Linked DNA regions of Homo sapiens: regions 2 and 3 are each linked to region 1. Evidence: fine-mapped expression QTL. A gene starts in region 1. Each other region holds a variant in brackets. All regions are shown on one strand. Distances are between the middles of the regions.

Region 1 (5,000 bases):
CCCCTCAAGCATTTATCCTTAGTGTTACAAACAATCCAATGGCAGTCTTTCAGTTATTTTTAAATTTACAATTAAGTTAAATGAATACATTTTTCTATCTGTGTTTGCATATCTTAGTTTGGGATAGAATGCATCATAATTTTCCTATTACAATTAATGAAAGTATTTTTTTTGGTTTAATGGCTTTTCACTCAGCAGTTGACCGTTCAGGAATGAATTCCTGTCGGTAAGTGATGGGTAGGTATAACTTCAGGGAATCCCCAAATTGCCCTCACCTCTGGGGGAATTGCAAGTTCAAGGCAGGTGAAGGCTACTCCAGCTAGGAACTCACGGCCACTATTCAATGTCAGTGGGGACACTGAAAGTTGTGAGGAGATTGAGAGGAGGAAGGAAAGAGGAAAGAAGTGAGTCCTGGTGTCGTGCTTGGGTGACTGTCCTCTCGCTGTGCACAGGAAGCTTTGTCAAGCAGCAGACATGCCATGTATGGCAATGATCCCATCCCCCATCTATCCATTTGTGATTTTCCCATGCCACCTGAGGCCATTCCTTGGTCTCAGTGTCCTTATTTGTGAAACAGAGTTAAAATACCTTTGCTATCAAGTATGTAGATTTACCATGAGGTTAAAGCGAATGTGCTATGCCTATATGAAGTATCACTTTTAGTTGAGCATTGAGAAGGAATAATTAGGGCCTTGAAAGATGACACCCTTCCTCCCCCCGCAGACATTAGCATGTGAGGTTCCTGAAGCTGAAGCTGGTTGTTTGTTGTTTGTTGTTGTTGTTGTCGTTGTTGTTGTTTTGAGATGGGGTCTCGCTCTGTTGCCCAGGCTGGAGTGCAGTACTGCGATCTCAGCTCACTGCAACCTCCGCCTCCCGGGTTCCAGTGATTCTCCGATTCTCCTGCCTCAGCCTCCCGAGTAGCTGGCATTACAGGCATCCACCACCACCTCCGGCTAATTTTTGTACTTTCAGTAGAGTCGGGGTTTCGCCATGTTGGCCAGGCTGATCTCGAACTCCTGACCTCAGGTGATCCACCCACCTTGGCCTTTTGGTTTTTTTGAGACACAGTTTCATTCTGTCACCCAGGCTGGAGTGCAGTGGCTCAATCTCAGCTCACTGCAGCCTCCACTTCCCAGGTCCAAGCGATTTTTGTGCCTCAGCTTCCCCGAGTAGCTGGGATTACAGTCACGTGCCACCACACCTGGCTAATTTTTGTATTTTTAGTAGAGACAGGGTTTCGCCACATTGGCCAGGCAGATCTCGAACTCCTGACTTAGAGTGATCTGCCCACCTCAGCCTCCCAAAGTGTTGGGATTACAGGTGTGAGCCACCACTTCTGGCCCCGAAGTTGGTTTTTTGTTTTGTTTTGTTTTGTATTTGTTTTTTTCCAGACAGTCTTGCTCTGCCGCCCAGACTAGAGTTCAGTGGCATGATCTCAGCTCGCTGCAACCCGCCTCCTGAGTTCAAGCAACTCTCCTGCCTCAGTCTCCTGAGTAGCTGGGATTACAGGCGCCTGCTACCACGCCCGGCTATTTTTTGTATTTTTAGTAGAGACAGGGTTTCACCATGTTGGCCAGGCTGGTCTCGAACTCCTGACCTCGTGATCCACCCGCCTTGGCCTCCCAAAGTACTGGGATTACAGGCGTGAGCCACTGCGCCCAGCTGAAGCTGGTTGTTAAGAGTAAGTGGCTAGGGCTAACTTGTATGATTTTTATTGCTCTCCTTTTCACTGTGAAGGGCCAGGAAATGTCGATGTTGGAGCTGCAACATTGAACATGGTTCCTGACTTTGTGGAACTCATGGTCTAAGATGTGTTCTAGAGTGAGGTCCAAAAACTCTTGGGAGAATCCCATACTAGGGGCCAAAGTCCTGCTAGGGTGTGTTATGGAATAACAGCAACAAAATAATGTCAACAGCCAATGAGCACAGGATAACTACAACACACCATGATGTCATAACTTGGACAAAGGCTTGTGACCCCCTGACTTTGGCGCAACATGAAATGAGCAGAAAGTAAGGTATATTATGGAATAAGCCCCAAAACTTGAGAGAATCCCATGCTAAGGGCTTAAGCCCTGACCAAGACAAGCCAGACAGGACCATGAATGTGTGGCCATGTTATACTGAGCTCATCAGCACCTGCTGAGCTCCTGTGTCACCTCTAAAGCCATGCGCACAAGTTTTGCATTGAGATAATTGCTCTACTGGTTTCTAGATATAGTTGAATTCTCCACCCCCACTCCCACTGCCCTATGACCTCCAGCAAAACAAAAGCAGGTAGGTAGTAATTGTGTTGTGAGTTAACGATATCTATATCTTTGGATAATAAAATCTATATCATTTCAGTGGTAGCATTGGAATATCAGTTGCCCTTCCCCATGAAGAAAGCACATTGTTATCGTTTAAATCATTATCATAATCAAAAATATCAAAGACCCAGTCATTCATCAGTCTTTCCAGTGAAGTCAACTGCCTTTGTTTTTTGTTTGTTTATTTTTGAGACAGGGTCTCTCTCTCTGTCACCCAGGTTAGAGTGCAGTGGCGCGATCTGGCTCACTGCAACCTCCACCTCCCAGGCTCAAGCGATTCTCCCACCTCTGCCTCCTGAGTAGCTGGGAATACAGGTGCTCACCAACATGCCCGGCTAATTTTTGTGTTTTTAGTACAAACAAGGTTTCGCCTTGTTGGCCAGGCTGGTCTCGAACTCCTGGCCTCAAGCGAGCCCCCTGCCTCAGCCTCCCAAAGTGCTGGGATTACAGGCGTGGGCCACTACGCCCGGCCTGAAACCAATTGCCTTTGAATTCATCCTGGGGAATCTGCTGAAGTGGACAGTTTATGTAAACACAAAAACATCCTAATGAATGGCTGCCTCAGTAGGAGTGGCAGACAAAACACATGGTGCACTTTTCATCAAAAACACACAAGGAAAAAATTTTTCATCATATCTTTTGTAGTTGCTAATAAACTTAATTCACGCACTTGTGTTTTTTTGTGGGTTTTTTTTTTTGTACACTTCTTAGTACCACAAAGAGGAAGTGCTTTTTCTCCTTCCTTTAAGAAAAAGTTCCAGTTCAAACCATCAGCCTCTGTAGGTTGTCTTAATTGCTACTTTGCACTGCACTGGACTATGACTGATTTTTGGCACATGCTATCATACACAAAGTTCCTGAAATAAAATGCTCCAGGATATCCTAGGAACTCTTAGAAGGCTTTAAAAAGGGACTCACACACTGAAAGAATATCTTTGATGAAGACAATTCAGGCAAGCAGAATGATTCTTGCAACAGAATTACATGATTAATTGAGATCTTGAAGTGGGTCCGGTGAATCCTGGCCACCTAACTTATCATGATTTGGGGGAGTTTCACGAGAATCCAGTTTTGATAAAACAATTGTTTTTTTCCTCCCCAAGTGACTATACATTTAAATAGCTAAAACATCTGTTCAGCAACATAGTAAAACATATATACTCGGAACGCTTGAGAGAAGAGCCTGCCAAACAGGGACTTTGCTGAGGGAGAGCACCAAGATAAAGCAACACTGTTTGTTTTGTCTAGTCAGGGGGAAAGCCAAGGCAACCAATATTTTGGTTTTTATAATTTTCATTTGTGAAGAATTATTTGAGAAAGGGTGGCGAGGGGAGATTTCCTGACGGCAGTTTCTTAAGCTGTCCATTAGTAGAAGAGCAAGAAAGCCTTGGATGTCAACGCCTCGCTCTTGAGACCAGCCACCAAACCACGAAAAGTGACTTTCTTCTCGTGTGCTCTCTACGGCCCTTCTGATGGAAGCAGAAACAGGGAGCAGCGTGGAGACTGGAAAGAAGGCCAACAGAGGCACTCGAATTGCCCTGGTCGTGTTTGTCGGTGGCACCCTAGTTCTGGGCACGATCCTCTTTCTAGGTAAGTGGAGTGCAGGAGGCCGGGGGAACTGGGTGTGTGTCGAGAAGTTTCCTTGTGCTTTATTGTAGCAAAACTTGTCATAACACAGGTATAGGGCTGTTTGCCTGCGTTCATAGGTGGTGTATCTTTAGTTTCTATCAAATATGCAAATGATAAAGAAGGCTTTTTTAAGGAGCCTAAATAAATAAATACACCCAAGTACCAAATGTATAGTCCAGAAGGCAAAGTGGGTGTAAGTGGCTTCGAGTGGCTGGCTGATTCTGTTGCATTGGGTGGAAAATTTTTTATGTGGTACATTTAGCAAAATGAGTGTTTGTGAATTCATAGTCACATAGTTTCATTTATATTTTGAGGAAAGACTTTACATTGTGATGAAAACCATGCTGGAGTGTCTTTCCATTTGACTTTTATTAATGTTTGCTTGAACGAATCATGAAATTTAATTCACAAAACACAAATCAGTCCTTTAAAGTGTGCTTTTAATGATATTCTTCAATTCCTTTCTTATCCAGTGACTCTGGTGAGATGCAATTTGATTTACAAATTAATATGAAGGAAAACAGAGGTTTTCCCCCAAGATTTGAAAGATATTGTGATTCAGTTATTTTAATGACTGTTGGTGAGAATGATGTACCCAGAGAGTATATAGGATGATAGAAGTGTATTCCCATGAAAAAGAATCAAATATCTTGGAAAGGAGTGAGGGATTTTCTAAAATTCTAGGCTTTCTGAACCCTTGACTATTACCGTTTTAATTTTTCTCATACAACCCATAATACTTCATTAACTTGAACGTTACATAGGAACGAGGAGATTCTAGGTGCAGTTTGAAATGTAGCAAACCTGCAGGAGGCCATGTTTATTTTGGCAGGGGTAAACCAGTAATTAAACTTTAAAAGAGTTAGGGTTGTGTGGTTGAAAACTGCTAAAATGAGCAAACCATCTTTCCACGCTTTCTGTGGCTGAAGATTTAGGAAATTAGATGGGTTTATTGCTTTCTGATAAAGCGAAATCTCCTACTCCTGCAACTGAATCTGTGGCTCTTGAAAACTCTTGTAAGATTTCTCAGCACTTAGGGTTTAAACAAGGGTCCTCTGCTGA
Region 2 (5,000 bases), 100 kb after region 1:
GTAGAGATGGGGTTTTGCCATGTTGCCCATGTTGGTCTTGAACTCCTGGGCTCAAGGGATCTGCTCATCTCAGCCTCCCAAAGTCCTGGGATTACAGGCATGAGCCACCATGCCCAGCTAATTTTTATATTTTTGGTAGAGATGGGGTTTCACCATGTTGTCCGCGCTGGTCTCAAACTCCTGGGCTCAAGTGATCCACCTGCCTTGGCCTCCCAAATTGTTGGGATTACAGGCATGAGCCACCATGCTGGGCCTGGTTAGTTATCTTTTAGTGGTGGAAAAAAGGGAATTTTCCTGGAAAAAGAAGTGTTGCCAGAGCATGGAGTCAAGCTGAAAGAACCCCTTACTTACCATGTTGAGTAAAGAGTCATTTCTCATGCAAGCCAATTTTGTTCCAGAAAACCTCGACTGAAGCTTCTTGGCTTTGACGTTCCCTCTTTGGGTATTTTCTTGTAGATGGAGGAATTGGTTGAGGGCGTTCGCTGGGCCTTTATTGACATGCTAGAGAAAGAAAATGAGTGGATGGATGCAGGAACGAAAAGGAAAGCCAAAGAAAAGGTAAGGATTCCTTTTGATGAAAAAAAAATAAGACTTCTGGTTTAATGGATGTTCATGCTTGACATTGACTGTGTAGTTGGTTTTTATATTGACTGAACTGTTGACTCTGAATGACCCCAGAGTTAGCTGTCTGCTTTTGGATGAATACATAGATTTTTGTTTCACCAGGAGGTAAGAGAAAATAATACCTGAATTTTTCGAACTGCATTTTCAAATACCTTGTAATTCGGCCTTTCCTTTCTCCTAATTGCTGTCTGTAAGAGGCACATGGCTTGCTGCCTGGTGAATTGTGTCATAAACCATCACTGGATATGGCAGAATGCAGAGCAGTGGGGAGTCACAGGGAGCAGCTGGAACAAGAGCCCCTAAGACACCAAAACGAAGAAAACCCATATTGGCCACATGTCCTTCTGCTCTGTGCATGATGCATGCAAATGTCCTGGGGCAAATCCTTTCCTGTAACCAAGCATATCTCCTTCCCGACCCATCATTTGGCACAAATGACCCAAATAGTATACTGATAAACTGCAGACCAGTGTTCTACCATTGCTTAGGACTACAAACGTATTTCCTAATAGAAGTGGACACTTGCTGGGCCTTGTAAAATTTTCTGATACTATGCGACACGATAAGGGAACAAAGGAGAAAAGTATTGACAGCCATGCTGTTTAAAAGTAGAAAACGGGCTGGGTGCAGTGGCTCACGCCTGTAATACCAGGACTTTGGGAGGCTGAGGCAGGTGGATCACTTGAGGTCAGGAGTTTGAGATCAGCCTGGCCAACATGGCAAAACCCCATCTCTGCTAAAAATACAAAAAAATTAGTCGGGTGTGGTGGCATGCATCTGTAGTCCCAGCTACTCGGGAGGCTGAGGCAGGAGAATCGCTTGAGCCTGGGAGGCGGAGGTTGCAGTGAGTTGAGATCGTGCCACTGCACTCCAGCCTGGGTGACAGAGCGAGACTCCATCTCTGAATAAATGAATGAATGAATGGGATCCATTTTGAATTCCAGAGATTCTGATAGAGCTGGAATTCAAGTGGGTGGAGCATACCTGCTAGACTCTTGATGGATGCTTCTCTGCAGCTGAGCATTTCTTGTATCTAGAGGTATTTTTGAAAGCTTCCTGAGTATAACAATCACCTGGGTTGCCTGGACGCTCTGGCTTTCTGGGCCCCTTCCCAGCAAGGCCTGGGTTAATGGATCATGGATGCAGGCTGAACAGCTGTCACTTTAGCCAGTCTCCGGGTGATTGTTATCACTAGGCAGGTCTGGGGAAACACTGCCTGGAGTCATACTGAGTCATACTGAGCACAAATATTTTTGCCTCAGCGTTCTGGGAATGCTTAACCTTGTTGAAATGAGAACACGTAGAGTTTTAGCAAGGATATTTTCTAGTGCTTTAAACTCATGGTACTGGAGATGGATAAACATTGCCATAGATACTTTTGTCAGTAGATGTGAAAAGGCGTTTGTTCAGTGTTTATAATGAAGGAAGAACTGGGATGGTGGGTGGCAAGGCAGCGTTGGAGGAAGACAAAGAGTAGGTTTGATTTTTTGTTTCCCCTTCAAAAATCTGTCAAAGCTGTCCTCAGTCACATAAGGCACAGGCTGATGAAGGCAAGAGCACATGGGCTGTGATGGGAAACTCTCCAGATGGTAGACAACTTTCAACACCAACATATTGTTGTTTTATGAAGGCTTCATTTATTTGCTGAGCTAGCTTGTGGTATGTGGAACAGGATGTGTCTTGCCCTGGGCAGTTGAGCGCTTAGTGTATTAAGGGCTCTTTATCCTCGCCTGACCCCACATGAACCGAAGAGGTGCTTGCATGAATTAGTACAGGACCACCAGGGTGGAGGGTGGGGTGGAGTGTGTGTGTATGTATA[G/C]GTGTTGGGGGTAATGTGTTATGAATAGCTGGATGCCAGGGGAATGTTCTGGGAAGTGCAGTCAGTTCTTTGAGCAGTGTGGATTGCAGTTGCCTCAGGGAGCTCTTCTGAGTGGCATAAGGGAGTGGGTGCCTCACAGTTGGCCCTTCTCGGCAAGTGGCCCATGGGTCCTTCTTGAAGCAGGACTATTCTCAGTTCTTCTAATATTAGACATGTTCCTGTTTGCCTCCCGAGTTGCTCTCCAGTCTTCTATTTTATTTCAATGAGAGCTGTCAGTTTTTCTTCTAAAAGCGTTCTTTGAACACTCTGCTTTCTTTGAGCTGAGTTCAACCTGCCAGGAACTCTGCTAGTTCCACGACAGGTACAAATATCAAAGGCAAATTGGATCTCACAAAGTTCCCCGACTGTATCTTGCATTTCAGAGTTCAGAGAAGTTTCTTTAACGAAATGCAAGAAAGATGGATGTTGTTGAAGCAATTTCAGCAGTTCTTTGAAGTGGGTCCTTTCCTGGACCCCAGAAGATGTAAATTTTTTTTTTTTTTTTCCCCTCAAAATTAAATGAACATGCAGTTCTTAAAATGACCTCTGGGTGGAGCTCGTGGTACTCACAAAGAACACTAGCGGCGTTGAAAGCTTTTATGCAGCTTTCTACTCCGGCGTTGTTTTTGAAAAAAAAAAAATTTCTTGCCCTTTTTCTCTGCTGTCCTCGATTTGATTGCCTTTTAATAGTCAACAAGAAAGGAGAGACTTTGCCTAATAATTCCTTGAATCTTAGATGGAAATCTCCCACTATCTTAGGGTTTTGTCTTTCTGATACTGAGTAGCCCCTGCATTAAGAAAGGATTTGCCTGCATTTGAAGTGGAGGTGAATAACTCGCCTGCTCTTCCTGGTATGACTTGGCACTGTTCTTTGGGCATGTGTTGTATGCAGTGTATCACCCAGGCGGAAGATTTCTCATCAATAATAGTGCCCACACTGGGCCAATGCTGAGTCACTTGGCAACCCATTGGGAAAGCTGGAAAAATGTTCTGATTTGTGAAAGGGAGAAGCTTTTCTTTCCCTCACCATGAAGCTCTGGACCGCAGCTAATTACAGAGCCTCCTAAGAAGTGTTAACCTCAGCATTCCATAGTGACCGACCTCCTGAACCGGGCAGGTACAGAAAGCTGCAGTGTTCTGAGGCCTAATACCTTGGCTTTTGTAGCAATGACCTCGTCTCAAAATGGAAGTGTGTGGATGTGGCTTTGTTGTACTCTTTGCTAGGGGTGTTCACTGTAAAAGATAAATGAGGATGCCTCTGCTCCCGTGAAGGGTAAATTTGTTTTCTCTGTCTCCCTGCCTTTTCCTGCTCATCTCTTAAGAGGTCACGAGTAGTTTTTGTATTGTGAAACTGATGGTGTAGGTTTCAAGTGGAAATTTAGTATCGTGAAATAAGCACCGCTTTTTGTTTAGGATTCTCTGTTCCCTGCAAGCATGTGCTCTTATTGTAAATAAGCAGCAAAGGACAGGGCATCTGTTATTTTTCTGGTGACCACAGCTGTTGAATGAGTGTCAGGTGATAAAATAATGATTTTAGGGGTGTCTTCTGGAGGATTTGCCCTTGCCAGAGTAGAAGAGGAGGATCTCAAGGTCGCTACATCAGGATTCTGACTGAGACCTGGCAGGAGAGCGTCAGATCAGGAGGAGCAACTTCCTGAGCTTGGCTTATCTCCAGCTGGATTTGACTATATAGCCAAAAAGCTGGATCCCTTCGGAATTATTTGTTTGTTTGTGCTCTTTGCCCCTGGGACCTAAGTTTGTCAGGTCACATCCAAAGAAAAATAGCAGGATGGGACTCACAGGGAGGTGGCATCCTAATGATGCTCTGAGGGAGTGGCCTTAACCTTGGCCACAGCAGGTGCAGAGAAGTCGGCTGAATGGTCCTAAATTTATTGGCATGTGACTCTCACACACAGGCTTTGAGTGAGGTGGTGAGAGTTTTCTTGCAGAGGGCGAAACAGAGGTGTAGCCCACTTCTTTGGCTTTGTCTCTAAGCTCTACCAGGCCTAGGTACTGGACTTCTCCCAGGTATGCGGTCAGGGCTCTGCTTATATCCGGAGCCTGGTGGTTCTCAAGGTGTGGTTCCAGACCAGTAGCAGCAGTGGTCCCTGGGAACTCATTAGAGATGCAAATTTTCACATCCCCACCTGCTGAGCTCTGGGAGTAGGGCTCAGTGCCTTGTGTTTTACCTGGTGATTCTGCTGCGTGAAAAGGGTTGGGAACCCCTGTCTTGTCCTTACCACTTCACAGCACACCTGCCTGACTTCCAACTGCAGCCTCCTGCATTTTGGCCAAGAGCATTCTCTCCCTGCTACAGCCTGCTTTGCTACTCATAAAGAGGGCCCAAAGGACGGGGAATGACCACACCTTCCTCAGAAGTCCTCACCCAACAGTTGATGGGAGTTGCTGTGTGTGGCCCCCGCTCCCTCATCCCTCTAGTGCGTGTTCCACATGGGCTCTGGGAGCTTTTCCAATGGGCTAGAGCTATTATACTAGCTAAGATACTCGTTGCTGACTG
Region 3 (5,350 bases), 82 kb after region 1:
ACTCACACTGGGAATGTGTAGACACGCCGATTAACCTAGCAGGCACATCTTTGGGATGTGGGAGGAAACCACAGCACCCAGAGAAAACCTGTGCAGACTTGAGGAGAATGTGCAAACTCTACACAGACAGTGACCCTGGCCCAGAATTGGTTTTTTCCTTATCAACTGTATAACAAAAGGATGTTGAATGAAATGATGTTATTCGAGGATCTGCTGTAATTTGAAGGTACTCACAATTTCCAGACACGAAAGGCTGTGTAACAGTGGACTTTATACCCTGAGAGTGAAAGTAAAATGTTCACTCTGAGGGCTGGAGCTGGAATCTTTCCTTCATCTATCTCTGTTAGGTGGTGAAAAGCAAGCCAATTTTGGTTGTGCTTATTGACATTGTATCATCTTATGTCATTTCTCAAGTGAAAGTTCTGCATTTTTGTATGAGTAAGAGGTCCCTCGATGGAGCTTTGCCAACTGTTTCTCTCAAGATGTTCTGCAGAGCATCAGATATTGACCTAAAATACAATAAATGGGCATCTCTCTCTGTTAACAGGACCATTGCCAACTATTTGGTGTGGAGAATGGTTTATTCCAGAATTCCAAACCTTAGCAGGCGCTTTCAGTATAGATGGCTGGAATTCTCAAGGGTAAGTTTAAGAAGATTGCAGTGTTACATCGCTGGATAACTTTACATGCTGGAATAGTCCATATATTAACTGATCCAGTAAAAATCATCTTTAGGGATTAGACAGGGGGAGTTTGTAGCCCAAGCTCTATTGTTTTTGTGTGTGTGTGTGTGCCTTATTTATTTTTATTTAGGTATAAATTACATATGGTAAGGTACACTCAAGTTTTACTTTGATGGGTTATATAAAGATATTTAGAGAAATACTTGAGGCCACACATTGTTTTCAAACTTCCCCGTCTTATTAGTGTATTCCCATTTTCCCCCAGAGTTTTTAACTGGGTCACTGTAATTATAGTTTTAACATTTCTTTGTGATATATTTGTAACTATCTTTTATTCTCAGTATTCTGAATATTTAAAATGTGCATGATAGAGATATTGGATGGTAGAACTTCATTTTCAATTTGGAAATGGAATTTTGTCTTAAACTTTGCCTATACCTTCCATCTTTGAATCTATCCTCTGCTAGGTCCAAGAGGCTCCAATTTAGTTTTCTTGCTCAACTGTCTGAGATGGTTTTCCTCCACCTGCTCACCTGGCTCTTTATTTATTTATTTTTATTAGAGATGGGGTCTTGCCATGTTGCCCAGGCTTGTCTTGAACTCCAGAGCTCAAGTGATCCTCTCACCTCAGCTTCCCAAAGTGCTGGGATTAAAGGCACGAGCCACTGTGCCGGGCCTCACCTGGCTCTTTAACCTTTGCTTCTCTCCCACCCTTGCTCGTCTCCCAGTTTGTACCCATGTTACTCTCACCTTTGTTTTTGAGGCTTATGTCTGACTAATTCTCCTACCACTAGAGGCCGTAAGGATTTTGTATCTTTGAAACAGTTTTTATTTTTCTATCAATTTAAAGTTAAGTGAATGGTGAATCTTATAAGCTATGATTTCATTCAAGAGGCATTTTAGTTATTAGAGGAACTAATAAGTATAGAAATTCTTAGTGGGCCATTACTCTGGAAGAGTAGTGCAATTATTTTGGATATGCTTTGACCCTATAAAGTCACTAGCATATAAAGTTACTTTAGGGCTGGGTGCAGTGGCTCACACCTGTAATCCCAGCACTTTGGGAGGCCAAGGCAGGCAAATTGAGGTCAGGAGTTTGAGACCAGCCTGGCCAACGTGGTGAAACCTCGTCTCTACAAAAAATACAAAAATTAGCCGGGCATGGTGTCACGCACCTGTGGTCCCAGCTACTCGGGGGGCTGAGGCAGGAGAATTGCTTGAATCCGGGAGGCGGAGGCTACAGTGAACTGAGATGATGGCACCAATGCACTCCAGCCTGGGCAACAGAGCAAGACTCCGTCTCAAAAAAAAGAAAAAAAGTCTTTTTTACAGAGAACAGCATAAAACAACTATATATATATTTAGGTCATATTGATGGGTTAAGATACAAAACAAGTAGGTTTTGTGTGTGTGTGTGTGTGTGTGTGTGTGTGTGTGTGTGTGTGTGTGTGTTTGTGTGTATTTTTAACTGCTACGAATCACATAAAAGATGATGCCCAGCTGCTTTCCACCCCTACTGTGAAGAGAATGAGAGAGGTGTAAGAAGCACTGTGTGAACATTTAAGGTTAGGTATGAGGGGATGTTTCTTGAGCACGAAGTGCTAAATATAATATTGAATTGC[C/T]GAAGAAGGTTGTAGGATCTCTTTCTCTAGAGGTTTTAAAAATAGATTCATCGCTTACCTCTGAGAGAGGTTACCAGAAATCAGAGGAAGAATAGATGAAATTAAGCCTTAATCCCATTCCTCAAAACAACCTGGGTCTAACATTGTGCAAAGGACACTTCTGACCACCATTCTCAGGGCCTCCCTTCCTCCCTGCCTGCACCCCCAGCTTCCAAGGGCAACTTACACTATATTTATTTCTCTGCTTTTATTCCCAAGAGTAAACCTCTGACCCAGGTCCTGCTTGGGAAACTTCTTACTTGTTTGTAAATGTTTTCTTGCAATGGTATAATTGGGACAGATGGGCAAAGCATTTACATCTGTATTTTGCTTGTTTATCAGTGTGTTTTTTGCTGTGACACAATGTAAATATGCTCCCTGTGTTGTTCATGGTGGGCCATGTTCTTCTGGTCTGCCTTGTTGAGTGTGCTACTCGGAGCAAGGAAACCCTCACTGGGCAGGAACTTTGATCACCCACTGATTCTAGACCTTCTTAGTGGAACTTTAGTTCTCAGGAGATATTAAATATTATCTAGACACTTGGATAGCATCCTCTCATGTCCCTGCTGACTGCAGAAAAGTGATACCATTGTCCAGATTCTTTGTTTAATGGGGAAAATTGGGAAGAAAGGATACATATATTATTTTAACTGTTAAATCACTTTCTTTTCTTCTTCTTCTTTTTTTTTTTTTTTTTTTTTTTCCAGACAGAGTCTCACTCTATTGCCCAGGCTGGAGTGCAGTGGCCCAATCTCAGCTCACTGCAACCACCGCTTCCTGGGTTCACACAATTCTCCCACCTCAGCCTCCCAAGTAGCTGGGATTACAGGCATGCACCACCGTGCCCGGCTAATTTTTGTGTTTTTAGTAAGCACGGGGTTTCACCATGTTGGCCAGGCTGGTCTCGAGCTCCTGACCTCAGGTGATCTGCTCACCTGGGCTTCTTAAAGTGCTGGGATTACAGATGTGAGCCACTTTGACCGGCCTAAAACATTTTCATTTAGTTTGAAATATAATGGGGACAAGCAGAATTTTTTTCTTCAACTATTTTACCTTTGCCTCTACTATCTGATGCATATATATGGGTTAGGGTGTGCAGTGTTTTGTAGACTGTTTTCTTCAGGTTGTTTGAATTGTTTTCAGCCATGGGTTTTATCCAAATGAAGTTTAATCTGGATCAATTATCTCCCACAGGTAATCCAGGGGACCACAACTTTGCTGCCTCAATGGGACAAATGTGTAAACTTTATTGAAAGTGCCCTCCCTTATGTTGTTGGAAAGATGTTTGTAGATGTGTACTTCCAGGAAGATAAGAAGGAAATGGTAAGTGGTACTCCCCAGCTAGCAAAAAATAATGGCAATTTAGCCAGATCTGACAAGGGTATATTCAACAGGCTAATGTCAGCCTTCCAGGTGGTAGTGGCCTGTGGGTATTGTCTTCAGATTCTTTCAACTTCTAAGTGAAATAGGAAGAAAGGTCATCAAACGAGAGTGAGGATGAGTTAGCAGGTATTGAAGGTTAGAGGAGAGAGAAGGTGTGTAGTTTTCCAGGGGAGTGGGAGAGTGAATAAACTGAGGGAATGTAGTATAGCTGCTTGAGGGCAGGCATGTCCAGATGTAGGTGAGGTTTGAGGTATTGAATTTAAAGAGGGACTCATCACTGTGGCAACGTGTTCTTCTCCATCTGTTTCAACTGCATTGGAGAAAAGGGTGTATTTTTTTTTCTTTCAGCTTTATTGAGATGCATTTGACTAATAACAATTGTATATATTCGAAGTATACGGCCGGGCGCAGTGGCTCACACCTGTAATCCTAGTACTTTGAGAGGCTAAGCCGGGCAGATCACTTGAGGTCAGGAGTTTGAGGCCAGCCTGGCCAACATGGTAAAACCCCATCTCTACTAAAAAAAATACAAAATTTATCTGGGCGTGGTGGCAGGCACCTGTAATCCCAGCTATTTGGGAGGCTGAGGCAGGAGAATTGCTTGAACCCCGGAGGCGGAGGTTGCAGTGAGCCGAGATCGCGCCACTGCCCTTCAGCCAAGGCGACAGAGCGAGACTCTGTCTCAAAACAAACACAAAGTATACAAGATGATGATTTGACATACATTGTGAAATGGTTGCCACAATCAAATGAACACATCTGTTGTCACACTTATTTACCATTGTGTGTGTGGTGGTGGGGGATGAGGACACTTAAGATTTACTGTCTTAGCAAATTCAAGTATACAATACATTATTAGTAACTATAGTCACCATGCCATATTTTAGATCCCCATAACTTATTCATCTTAGAACTAGAAGTTTGTACCCTTTGATCAATATCTCCCCATTTCCCTGCCCCCAGCCCCTGGCAACTACTGTTCTACTCTCTGCTTCTATATTTTAACTTTTATAAAGATTCTACATATAAGTGAGATCATATAATATTTGTCTTTCTGTGCCTGGCTTATTTCACTTAGCATAATGTCCTCTGGCTTTATCTATGCTGTTGCAAAAGGCAGGATTTTCTTCATTTCTTCATTTTTATGGCCAAATATTCCATTGTGTGGTACACACATGCACACATCGCAGTTTCCTTATGTATTTATCCATTGAAGGGTATTTAGGTTTATTCCATATCTTGGCTATTATGAATAATGCTGCAATGAACATGAAGGTGCAGATCTTTCTTCCATATACTGATTTTACTTACTTTGGATATATACCCAGTAGTGGGATGGCTGGATTGAATGGTAGTCCTATTTTTATTTTTTTGAAGATTTTCCATGCTATTTTCCATAATGGCTGTACCAGTTTACATTCTTACCAACAGTATATGAGCGTTTCCTTTTTTTCCAGGAATATTTTGCCAACACTTACCTCTTAAATTTTTGATCATAGCCATCCTAACAGGTAGTGAAGTGCTATTTCATTATGGTTTGATTTGCATTTCCCTGATGATTAGTGATGAAAACCTTTTCATAAACCTCCTGTTTATGTGTCGTCTTTGGAAAAATGTCTATTC

Direction of the effects. Alleles are on the strand shown, and positions count from the first base shown. SD is a standard deviation of normalised expression in the study named.
As copies of G replace C in region 2, the expression in thyroid of the gene that starts at base 3,101 in region 1 goes down (small effect, 0.28 SD a copy in GTEx).
In carriers of allele C in region 3, the expression in esophagus muscle of the gene that starts at base 3,101 in region 1 tends to be higher than with T alone (moderate effect, 0.50 SD a copy in GTEx).

The links. PIP is the estimated chance that this variant, and not a neighbour inherited with it, causes the effect.
Region 2: its variant is fine-mapped to the expression of PHEX in thyroid (GTEx, PIP above 0.99).
Region 3: its variant is fine-mapped to the expression of PHEX in esophagus muscle (GTEx, PIP above 0.99).

The regions. Positions count from the first base shown.
Region 1 is chrX:22,029,225-22,034,224 of GRCh38, forward strand. It overlaps PHEX (phosphate regulating endopeptidase X-linked), which reads left to right and starts at 3,101. Exons shown (of 22, transcript NM_000444.6): 1 at 3,101-3,899. The coding sequence starts at 3,782.
Region 2 is chrX:22,133,067-22,138,066 of GRCh38, forward strand. It overlaps PHEX (phosphate regulating endopeptidase X-linked), which reads left to right. Exons shown (of 22, transcript NM_000444.6): 12 at 457-558. Among named protein-coding and RNA genes, the nearest start is that of PHEX-AS1, 37 kb to the right of the region's middle. The variant G/C (reference allele first, on the strand shown) is at 2,444.
Region 3 is chrX:22,110,920-22,116,269 of GRCh38, forward strand. It overlaps PHEX (phosphate regulating endopeptidase X-linked), which reads left to right. Exons shown (of 22, transcript NM_000444.6): 10 at 548-641; 11 at 3,539-3,667. Among named protein-coding and RNA genes, the nearest start is that of PHEX-AS1, 59 kb to the right of the region's middle. The variant C/T (reference allele first, on the strand shown) is at 2,306.